Regions from separate parts of the Homo sapiens genome. Here region 1 is linked to region 2. Evidence: fine-mapped expression QTL. A gene starts in region 2. The other region holds a variant in brackets. All regions are shown on one strand. Distances are from middle to middle.

Region 1 (5,386 bases), 24 kb before region 2:
AATTACAGAAACACAGAAAACATTGTAATGGTTAAGAGAAAAATACATTTATATTAATATATTTAAGAAACATTTATGTTGTCAATAAAATATGAGAAAAATATTCATCTTCAATAATAACTCAAAAAAGGCAAAACAAATGAGATACCATTTCCCCACTATCAGAATAACCAAAAATTTTTAAATTAAAAACTAGTTTCCACAATGATGTGAGTAAAAAGGAGCCCTCATATCATACCCTCACATAAGTATAAATTGCTGCAACCCCTTATCGTCAAAATTTTGTCTGTCTATATACATACATATATATGTAAATATATATTTTTGCAGCACTATTTTCTATGGAAGAAAAATGCACAAATATGAAAAGATCATTTTCTTGAAAGATTGTTTTATTTTTTAATATAAAAGGTTGCAGAAAACAAACGGCTACATATATATGTAGTTGTGTGCACATACTATACACATTATATATATATATATATATATATATATATATATACACACACACATACTAAAGTGGTAATGTTACCTTTGGGGATGGGGGTTGTTGAAGGATTGTGTGATATTTATTTTCCATGGTAGAATTAAGGTTAATTTTAACTTCTGTGTGTGTGTTCATATTTTTCAAATTAAAAATACAAGCACACAAGCCATATTATATCTTTAAGAAGTATATACATATCATAAATTAGGGGGTCACACAGGCATAACTTGGGTACTGGCTTCACCACTGAATCATCTTAGATTCCCTAAACTTTTGTTTTCTCCAACATTAAAATAAGATAAGAACCTAAAATAAGTTTTTATCTTATGAAGTTGTAAGGATTAAGGAGATAATGCAGGATAATTTATGAAAATGATTGCTATAGTAACTGGTGCATTAAAAGTTTAATAAATATTAGATATTATTGTTATTATTGCACTCAAACTCCAAATTCATCCGGCCTATCAGATAAATGTTAATCCCTACCTGTTCCTAAACTAGTTAAGGTCCTTGTCTCCTTGTTCTTTTAGAAGTTTGCATTTGCTCTTACATTCCATCTAGTTCTCCCCTAAAAAAGCTGCACTTTTTTGCTTTGCCTCTCCGCTGGAAGGCTCTTGCCTGGGTCCCTATTTTCCTACATTCGTTCAGGTAAAACCACCCCCATCAGCCTCTACTCACCCACTTCAGCTTATCTCATTGGAATTCCATCTAGGCCAGAACTCAAAACCATTCCACCCCTACTGCCTCTCTGTCCTTTGCCTCCTAACTGAATTCCAAGTCTTGCTTATTTTTTATTTTAATTTCATGTGCAGGATGTGCAGGTTTGCTACAAAGGTAAATGTGTGCCATGGTGGTTTGCTGCACCTACCAACCCATCACATACGTATTAAGCCCACCATGCATTAGCTATTTTTCCTGATGCTCTCCCTTGCCCCGGGGCTCCCGTCCCCACCAGCAGGCCACAGTGTGTGTTGTTCCCCTCCCTGTGTCCATGTGGCCTCATTGTTCAGCTCTCACTAATAAGTGAGAACGTGCGGTGTTTGCTGTTCTGTTCCTGTGTTAGTCCGCTTAGGATAATGGCTTCTAGCCCCACCAATGTCCCTGCAAAAGACATGATCTCTTTCCTTTTTGTGGCTGCTGAAGTCTCGCTTTTTTAATGGAGATGGGCCCAGGCATCCCAGTATTTCCAAGAACAGCTTTTTCCTATGATAGCTATAACATGGAGAAAATTATTACTTTTCAAAAATTGCAAAGAAAGCATCAATGTCACCATAAAAATATTATGATCAGGTCCCATGATGGACACATCAGCTATATTTAGAGGACAAACGAAGAGATGGATTCTATTTTAGAAAATATTTTCATACTTCGAATGTGTTCCTTAAAATATTTAATGGGGCAGTTTCACTGGTAACTAGAACATAAAACTGAAGTCTCCCAATCCTTGCCGTCCATGGCAACTTAGGTGATCACAGGAACTGCCACTCTTCCCGAGTCTGCATGTGGACATTCTGTGCTCACAAGGGAAGAGCCAAGGAGGGATGTCAGGAAGAAGCGCTTTTTTAAAATCGGCAGAATTTTAATATTTTTGTTCTTCTGGACAAAGAATATTCTCTACAACTAATGGTTTATCCAACATTTATCTCAGGAACATCTGAGTTTTGTTAATTTTCTTAGAGGTAGTAACTGGACGATGTATAGACAAACATGTTTGCCTCCCGACTGTAGCAGAGAATAATCTCTTGAGAGGAAATAGTTCTTTTTACAGCAACAAAAAGCAAGAAAAGCAGAGCAATAAGATGATGCTGTTAGTAGTTTATGTCTCTTAAGACCTTAAAAGGTAATAATCATTCTACCTTCCATTTCCTTAGCGCCTGATGGTTTGCAAAGTACTTTCACATACATTATCTCACTCAAGGAAAAGAAATGCATATTCTATAAGGGCCATTCCTGAGAGAAAATGAAACATCAAGCAAACGAAAACTATTCCTCGATTGAATAATTCAGGGAGCTGCTCTATCAAAATAGTGAACCACTTCATGAGAAACAGAGGAGACAAAAAATCAAATCAAATCACCATCACTGGCATAAATATGAAATATATGGGGTCGACTAACTTTTTTTCATTATGTTCATGATTCAGGGACTATAATTTGTTTCATATTTGTCAAAATTGGAAATAAGATGATAAATAGATATCCTAGCTCTTAGGCACCCTGTGGAATTTCAATGTCTTGCCACCTAAGGCAAAATACACACACACACACACACACACACACACACACACACAGTTTGGCAGTGTAATGACTTTCTTTTGCCCTCTGATTCCATACAAATTTAACTCCCTGTCATGACACCTGCCCCACTGTTATTGTTGTGTACCTTTTGCTCCAGCCTGGCCAGGGTCTTCCTTTGACAAAAATGTGCACATTGCTGCTTCTTAGCCTCTGTTCCCCACACCATTCTTCATAGCTAAAATAATATTTCTTCCTCCAAGCACTTTGCCCAACTACCCTGAGCTACAATCTCCATTCTTTGTCTCTAATAATTCCTGTTTTTTATTCATTCACCCAATAACTATTTGATGAGAGCTGCCTATGCACAAGATATCAGGCTAGGTACTGGGAATAGAGCAATGAAAAAGACAAACGAGATCTCTCCTCTTAAGGAGCTGGGGACATTCTGGGAGGCGGGGACAGACAATAAATGCATTTTACACATTT[C/T]AGATGCTGCTAAGTACTATGAAGCTCTATAACAGGGTAATACAAGAAAGTGGCTGGAGAGGGGACAGATAGTTTAGGTTGGGGGGATAGTCAGGGAAGGCTTCACTGAGGAGGTGACATCTGAGCTGGGACCTGAATGACAAGAAGGAGCCAGCCCTGCAAAGATAGGGGGAACAGGAAGAAGGGCGGTGTGGCAGGAGGAGAGTAAGCACAGGGAAGCATGCTGAGAGGCATGAAGAGAGGAGCTGAGAGTCAGGCAAGAGTTAGATCCCGCATGGACTTTACCTTTTACTCCAGGTGCACCCAGACGCATGGGAGGGTTTTCTGCAGGAGAGTGGCAAGACAGGATTTGTGTTTTTTGAAAGATCTCTCTGACTACTGGTCAGAGAATGGACCATGAGGGTACAAAGTTAGAATGAGGCAGACCAGTTAAGAGGTTGTTGCAGGTCCAGGGGAGACAAAAGAGGTGGAGACTTTGTATGGGGAACATGGAGAAAAGTTGGCAGATATGGGGTCTATTTTGTACATTAAGCCATTCAGACTCATGGGTAAGTTAAATGCAGCAGGGGAAAGAAGTTCGATGTCATATTCTACTGTGTCATAATTAAACAATCTCACGTGTGTTTGTACATGTATTTCAACTGAACTATAATTACTTTGCAATCAGAAATTAGTCATATTCTTCTACTCTTTTTTTTACTCAGCTACAGAAATGAGGATGGCTCATTGTAGAAATGAGCGTGCAATAAAGACTTGCTAACTTGAATCCAATTAATATTTCTACTTCTATTGTGGGTCCAAAGTCGTCTAGTTCAACTAATCATGGCAAAGCCAAGTGTCTCCCTTCCATTTTCTTTACTGCATCCTGCCATCTGTCCTTTCACCTCCTGCTACTTTTCAGTCACTGTAATTCTCCCTGTGATTCCTTCGCAATCGCCCTCTGAGTATCAGATTTCTGCTTCCTCGCTCACTGCACGCCACAGTTAGTTCTGTGCAGCTTGCTCCAGCCATTTACTCTGTGCCCACTCCCTGTCAGGCCCTCGGCTGGGTGATGGGGACCCAAAGGTAAACATCAGCAGACGTGAGAAGAAACTTCACAGTTTAATCTTCACACGAGAACTAGGAGGGAGAATCCTGGACCACACAGGTACCACACGAGAACTAGGAGGGAGAATCCTGGACCACACAGGTACCACACGAGAACTAGGAGGGAGAATCCTGGACCACACAGGTACCACACGAGAACTAGGAGGGAGAATCCTGGACCACACAGGTACCACACGAGAACTAGGAGGGAGAATCCTGGACCACACAGGTACCACACGAGAACTAGGAGGGAGAATCCTGGACCACACAGGTACCACACGAGAACTAGGAGGGAGAATCCTGGACCACACAGGTACCACACGAGAACTAGGAGGGAGAATCCTGGACCACACAGGTACCACACGAGAACTAGGAGGGAGAATCCTGGACCACACAGGTACCACACGAGAACTAGGAGGGAGAATCCTGGACCACACAGGTACCACACGAGAACTAGGAGGGAGAATCCTGGACCACACAGGTACACGTAAGAAAGAAAGGGAAGAATTACACAGGAAAACACGGATTTGATTCTCTCCTTTAGAGCTGGGCTCCCAAAGAGTTCCATAAAAGGGAAGACATCTTTGCTTCCCTGCCCCTTATCTCTCAAGCCTTCTGGACACTCTGTTTCAAGTTCCAGGAAAGGAAATCTTCGGCCTCTCCTTGAGAAGCAAAGAGAATTCAGTGACAATGTGTACAGAAATGTCTCTGACTTTCCTTAGATGATTCCATCTTTCTTCCTGCAACTCACCTCCTCACAAACAAACGTCCTCTCCTGCATTTGGGTTAATTTATTTTCAGTAAACACTCATCAAATGACCACCACTAAGCACAAGACCTAGCAGGGTCCTAGAAATATAGTTTCTGTCTTCTAGATCTTTGAAGGAAAGACATAAAATAAAGTAAAGTGAAATTCACACCAAGTAGACATCTGAACCACACGGTATTTGAACACAAAAGTGATGCATTCTGAATAGATGGCTCAAGAAAGACACCTGCCTGGATATGGAAAGGAGGGTAGTATTTTGAGAGGCTCAGGAGAGTATGGAGGTATAGGAACAGAGTGAGCAAAAGCTCAGAGGCTTCACAC
Region 2 (5,386 bases):
AGCTGCGATTTCTGCCAGACAATCAATAGCAGCTGATGTGAAATAAATTCTAAATACAGACACAGTCAATATCAAGACACAGTCAATATTAAAGCACAGTCAATATAGTATCAAGACAATATTATATATTTCATGTATTTAATGCCAATAACAATGGTTCAAAATTCAATAGCAGTAGGACACACCAATTAATAGTAACTTTTTATTTAATTAAATCTTGGATCTCTTGAAATCAATATACAAATGAATTATGTAAATATTTTGATTGAAATGTCGGGCACCTAAGAAAACAATGACAACTTTGGGTTCTTCTAAAGGTCCCAACATGACTATTCTGCTACCTTCATATTTAAAATATATATATATTTCTTATTAAAAACTGAAGTAAGTTTTACAACCTGTGATGTACCAGCTCCTTCAAAGAATTCTTTTTTCTTAGGAATTAATTTCATAATCACACCGAAGAATGGCTGTAATGGAAGAGTTAGATAAGAAGTAAAGATAAAGGCAGGTAGACCACAGTTGGCAGTGTAGCATTCCCAGTCAAACCTCTGGATTAGAAGACTGTATATAACTATCACATACTTGCTTCCAAAACATTACTCAGACCGAGAGTATAGCCCATAGCATCTACCACAAGCACAAGAATTGATCCTGACACTTTTGGTTCTCTATCTAGGAGTGGCTTTGAAATACATTTGAGTTCCAATTTACTGATGGCAAATCCTGATATGAAAAATTTGGAAATGAAAAACAATCCTCAGCATGTTACTTGGTGAAAAGAGAGCAGAGGAAAAGGACAGAGGCTAGAGATTGGCTCCTGCCTGCATTCGTGAATTTGTCTAAATCACTTAGCTTCTGAGCCTGGGTAAAATGAGGATGGTAATTACACTTGTCACCAGATAACGTGAATATTGCCCTTCAAACTCCTCAATGAAGCCTGCACTGTGGAACTGCAATGTCCTAGGACCGGGTTGCTCTTAGAACATTTTGTTCTAAGTGTATCCTAACAAGTGTAGCAAAACTGGAAGACACAAAATGTATTTCCTCCCCACAAGAATGAAAGCCTTCCTAACTCCAAATTTAGGCACAGCCTGTAAAAGATGTGACTAGTAAACACAGAAACCATTTGCTTTATAAGGTCTAAATTGTCCTCTTCTCCAGAGTTGTAGAAGCCAAGTCCAACACGGAGATCCCTACTTTTATTCAAGTTCCACCATTAGTCAACTCATGTCCAGGATGTCTTCTTTAATATATAAAATGGGGATACTTTTTTATATTATTATTCAACTTAAGAGACCACTGTGAAATTTCAGTGAGGTAACGTATGTGAAATGTTATACTCCATAAGTTCTTAAACACCTGAGTTTCATACCATGCTCTGAAGCAAGAGGCCAAGTCTGGTTCCTGGGTCCGCTTCCCCAATGGGCTTTTCCAAGCTGTAGGCTGAGTCTAAACTGTTTCCTCCCACATACCCTTCCCTCTGCGACACACTAACAACATCCCTTACTCCATCACTGTCTTCCTTACCCTCTCCTGATGAGCCTTCTTCCCCAGCCACCTTTAAGCTCCCATTAATGATATGTGTAACGAGTGTTCAATAGAGTGTGTGTGTGTATATTTAATGCCATTTATATGTTTTTTCTTGCTAAGTAATGCATCATAATTTTAGAAAATTGGGACTAGTCAGATAAAGCACCCGTTGGTTTAGAATCCCTGACTCAAAGTCAGATGTCCTGAGTTCTAGACTTGGTTTGTCTCCTTGTAAGTGCAAAAGTTTATTCCCAATTCCAGGTTGCTAGTGTAAACTTGAAGTTTGGCCCAAACAAAACCCCTATCAGATTTATTTAGAGTGTTGATGCCAAATGGAATTCTAGAAGCCCACCTTTGCCAGGGGCTGAGCCAGAACCACTATCACTGGGGGTACGGCCTGGGCATTTGTTCTGCGTTTTTTATAAGCCCCTCGGGTGACTGTCAGACAGGCCAACTGTTTCAGAAGCTCTGCTCCAGGCTCTAGATCACACGTTAAGTAGCAAGGATGGGGGTCTGGACCTCCAGTATTGGCATCCTCCGAGAGCTTGTTAGAAAGGATGTCTCCCTCATTATCCCAGGCCTACTGAATCTGAATCTTGCATCTCATCACAATCCGCAGGAGATTCTGTCACACACTGAGGGTTTGAGAAGCACTGCTGTACCTTGGTATCTTTAGATACCTACTGATACCTGGGTGGGCCCCACCCAGACATTGTCCTGTACTTGTTCTGGGATGCGTCCGGGGCAAAGGGTTCTTACAAGCTCCCCAAGTTATTTTAATGCACAGCCACAATAGAAGATCACTGTCCCCCAAATGGCAACCCTTTACGGTTAAGCTGTAACCTGAATTAAATTGGCTTTTGTGGGCTCCCCAGGGACCTTAAGGACCGCTTAAACGGTGCTGTTTAAAGGACAATGGGCTCCTGGGACAAGTTCAACCACAGAGCTTTGGGTTCATAAAATCAGGGCAGGGAAGACTTCCTGCATCCTCCCGCGAGCAAGCCAGGCCCCGCGCCGGTCCTCACCCGTGTGCACCCCCAGCCCGGCCCCGCCCGGCTCGCCCCCTCCCGCCCCGCGGCCCGCCCCTCCTCCCCCGTGACGTGCCGCTGCGGCCAGGATCATGCGCACTCGCGCCCCGCTCCCCGCGCGGCTGCTCCGCCTCGGCGCCTGTCATTCTCCGCGGCGCGGCGGCGAGTGCTGGCTGCGGTACCCTCCCGCTCGCTTGTCCGTCTGCGCGCCCGCGATGTGACCAGCCGACTGGGGGCGGGCTGGCGGCTCTGCCTGCGGCAGCGCATCGGTTTTTCTCCTGGCAGGTCCCTAATTGAGCCGTGATTCCCTTGGAGCCAGAGACACCCACCAGGGGCTCGGAGCGCCGCGCTCCGGGGCTGGAGGCAGCTGCAGCGCTCGGGTCCGCGCGGCCGGGTGCAGTAGCCTCAGTCCCAGCCGCCGCCTCGCTGAGTCGTGTGCCCTGGCGAATGCCCGGCGCCCGGCACAGCTGAGCCAAGGCGACTGGTGCAGAGCGGCGGCGCCTGGTCCTGCACTTGCCGCTGCTGCCGGGCTGTGCCGGGGCGGCGGCGCTGCGCGCCGGAGTTTGCAGAGGCTGCCTCCGAGCGCCGTCCGCCAGGAAGACTCCCTGCCTCCTGAGTCCCAGTAAGTTGACTGTAGTTTCTGAAGTTGGAGGGAGCCGTGGGAAGGAGAGGTTCGTTTTTATCTTCTTGTGGGAAGCCGAGGGTGGCACCTCTTGTTAACAGAGTTCCAGCTCGAGGAGGGAGTGCGGGGTGCCAAGAAGGGGACAAGGCAGCTGGAAGGTCTGGAGTCCAGGGCTGGCTGACCTCAGCATCTCACGAATGTGCCAGTTGGAAATATGCTGGGAGAGGACAGGTACTCCTAGGGCATTTCGACTGCTGCGTGCTAATTATTCATTCCAAGCTCCTTGACTCTGTGTTTACGTTGGGGTGAAGGGGCTGGGCAGGGTCTTGTCACCTCCATCCTAATTCCTCTGGGGAGTGTGGCCAGCACTGCGATGGATCTTTGGGCGAGCCATTTCTTTCAGGCCTGCAGGCTTCCCGCGCATCCCGCTTTACTCTTCCCCTAGGCAGAAGTTGCCAACCTTTTCATAATTGGAGCCTAGTCCTTTAGGGAAAAAACAACTTATATGTCGACCCGGTGTTTTATGCCCTAAGGCAAATAAAACGAGCTCTGGGCGTGTGAATTCATACACTTTAAGAATGTAGGCAAGTCTCAAGAAATAGGATTCAGATAATGACACTTGGATTTCACCCTGATTGTCCTGCACCTCTTATGTAAGCCTCCCGGCTGGATAACTTTATCTCTGCAGTGGCTGCAGCTGTGGCCCTCCATTCCATTTGTTTAAAGTCCAATTGAACAGTATTTACTGAAAATGCTGACATGATATAGCGGCCTGAAGTCTGAAACAGAGTGCACTCTTCAAATTGGAGTGTCTTCTCCTAATAGGGAGCATGGGAGGAACAACCCACTATATTTTTCAAGGCAGCTCCAGGAATTAGACCCATAAATCATGTTTTAAAATAGCATGCATTGTGCAGAGAGCATGCAGAGGACCGCTTTTTGAACACATCCCCTTTGTTTTAGAAAAAGTGGAAATTGTTCATGCCAGACAATTGTTGAGTCTAAAAGTTAAGTGTACTGATGGGCCTAATTATCTTAATAAACAAAGAGCATGATTTATAGGTAGCTGCAGTGCCCTACTTTGAAGGATAGAAATCTTTAACCTTTCTTTCTCAGCTGTTCCCGAGAGATTCCTTTTAAGCAGAGCTATGGATTATCATCATTGATGTTTAATACCTGAGTTGGTTAAACTTGTAAAAGGAATAGTACTTTGAAGTACCATGCAGTACTGCTGTGTGACTGTTACACAGCGAATATTATAAATAAGAGGAATATTTGGAGTATTGGGTATAGATGTCATTAGTTTAACAAAATAGGTCATATTAAGACTTTCCTGCTAAATATATATACACATACATAAATGTTTAATTTGGACTTGAAATTATTGTTTAAACCAAAGCTCAGGGGTATGTTTTAATGTAAGATTTATTTACATAATCTTTGAAGAGAGAAGTGCATTTATTTATGGTATTTCAGCATGCAGAACAAGATGAACTAGTTATAGGCACCTTATTTAAAGTGTAAAGGGTTTTTTTTTAGGAATACTAAGAAAATACACAAAATGTTATTTCAGAAGTTGAAAAGTTAGTCACATCAACACATTGCGGTTTGTGAGAGCATCCAGTGCTTATCTCTAGAAGAGATTACATCCAAGCATGGAATCTCAAACAGATTGACCCATTAAGCCCTATTGCAGCCTGGTTAGGAGGACAGGCTATGGAGCCAGGCTGCCAGCTCTGGTACCATCTGTTTGAATCTAGGCAAGTAACCCAAAGTCTGTGCCTCAGTGTCTTCATCTGTACAATGGGGATGACAGTAGTAGTACCTACCCCACTGAACAGTAGTGAGAATTAAATGAGTTCATAGACATAGAGCTGTTGGGCCAGTATCTGGCATATTAAGCTTGTTCTGGGAAAAATTTTCATTGTTATGAAAGGAAATGCATCTTTGGACTCTATGGACATTGAATTGCTGCTATGGACATTGAATTGCTGCTGATGAATATTAACAGAAGCAGTTCATGTGTATAATAGGAGAGAAGGTATAAACATTTATTGTGCACTGTCTAGCGATACAGACACCAACTGGTATTTAACACTGTCTTGCTCAATTCCCCACCACAGTCCTTTGAGGTAAGTGGCTTCATCTCTACTTTAGAGATGAGAAAATGGGAGCTCAGTGAGATCAAATAGTAGAAATTGGA

Evidence for each region. PIP is the estimated chance that this variant, and not a neighbour inherited with it, causes the effect.
Region 1: its variant is fine-mapped to the expression of PAG1 in whole blood (TOPMed, PIP 0.99).

What each region holds. Positions count from the first base shown.
Region 1 is chr8:81,133,365-81,138,750 of GRCh38, reverse strand. No RefSeq gene overlaps it. Among named protein-coding and RNA genes, the nearest start is that of PAG1, 24 kb to the right of the region's middle. The variant C/T (reference allele first, on the strand shown) is at 3,211.
Region 2 is chr8:81,109,388-81,114,773 of GRCh38, reverse strand. PAG1 (phosphoprotein membrane anchor with glycosphingolipid microdomains 1) reads left to right here and starts at 2,706. Exons shown (of 9, transcript NM_018440.4): 1 at 2,706-3,183. RefSeq lists a silencer at 2,571-2,700 and an enhancer at 3,191-3,260.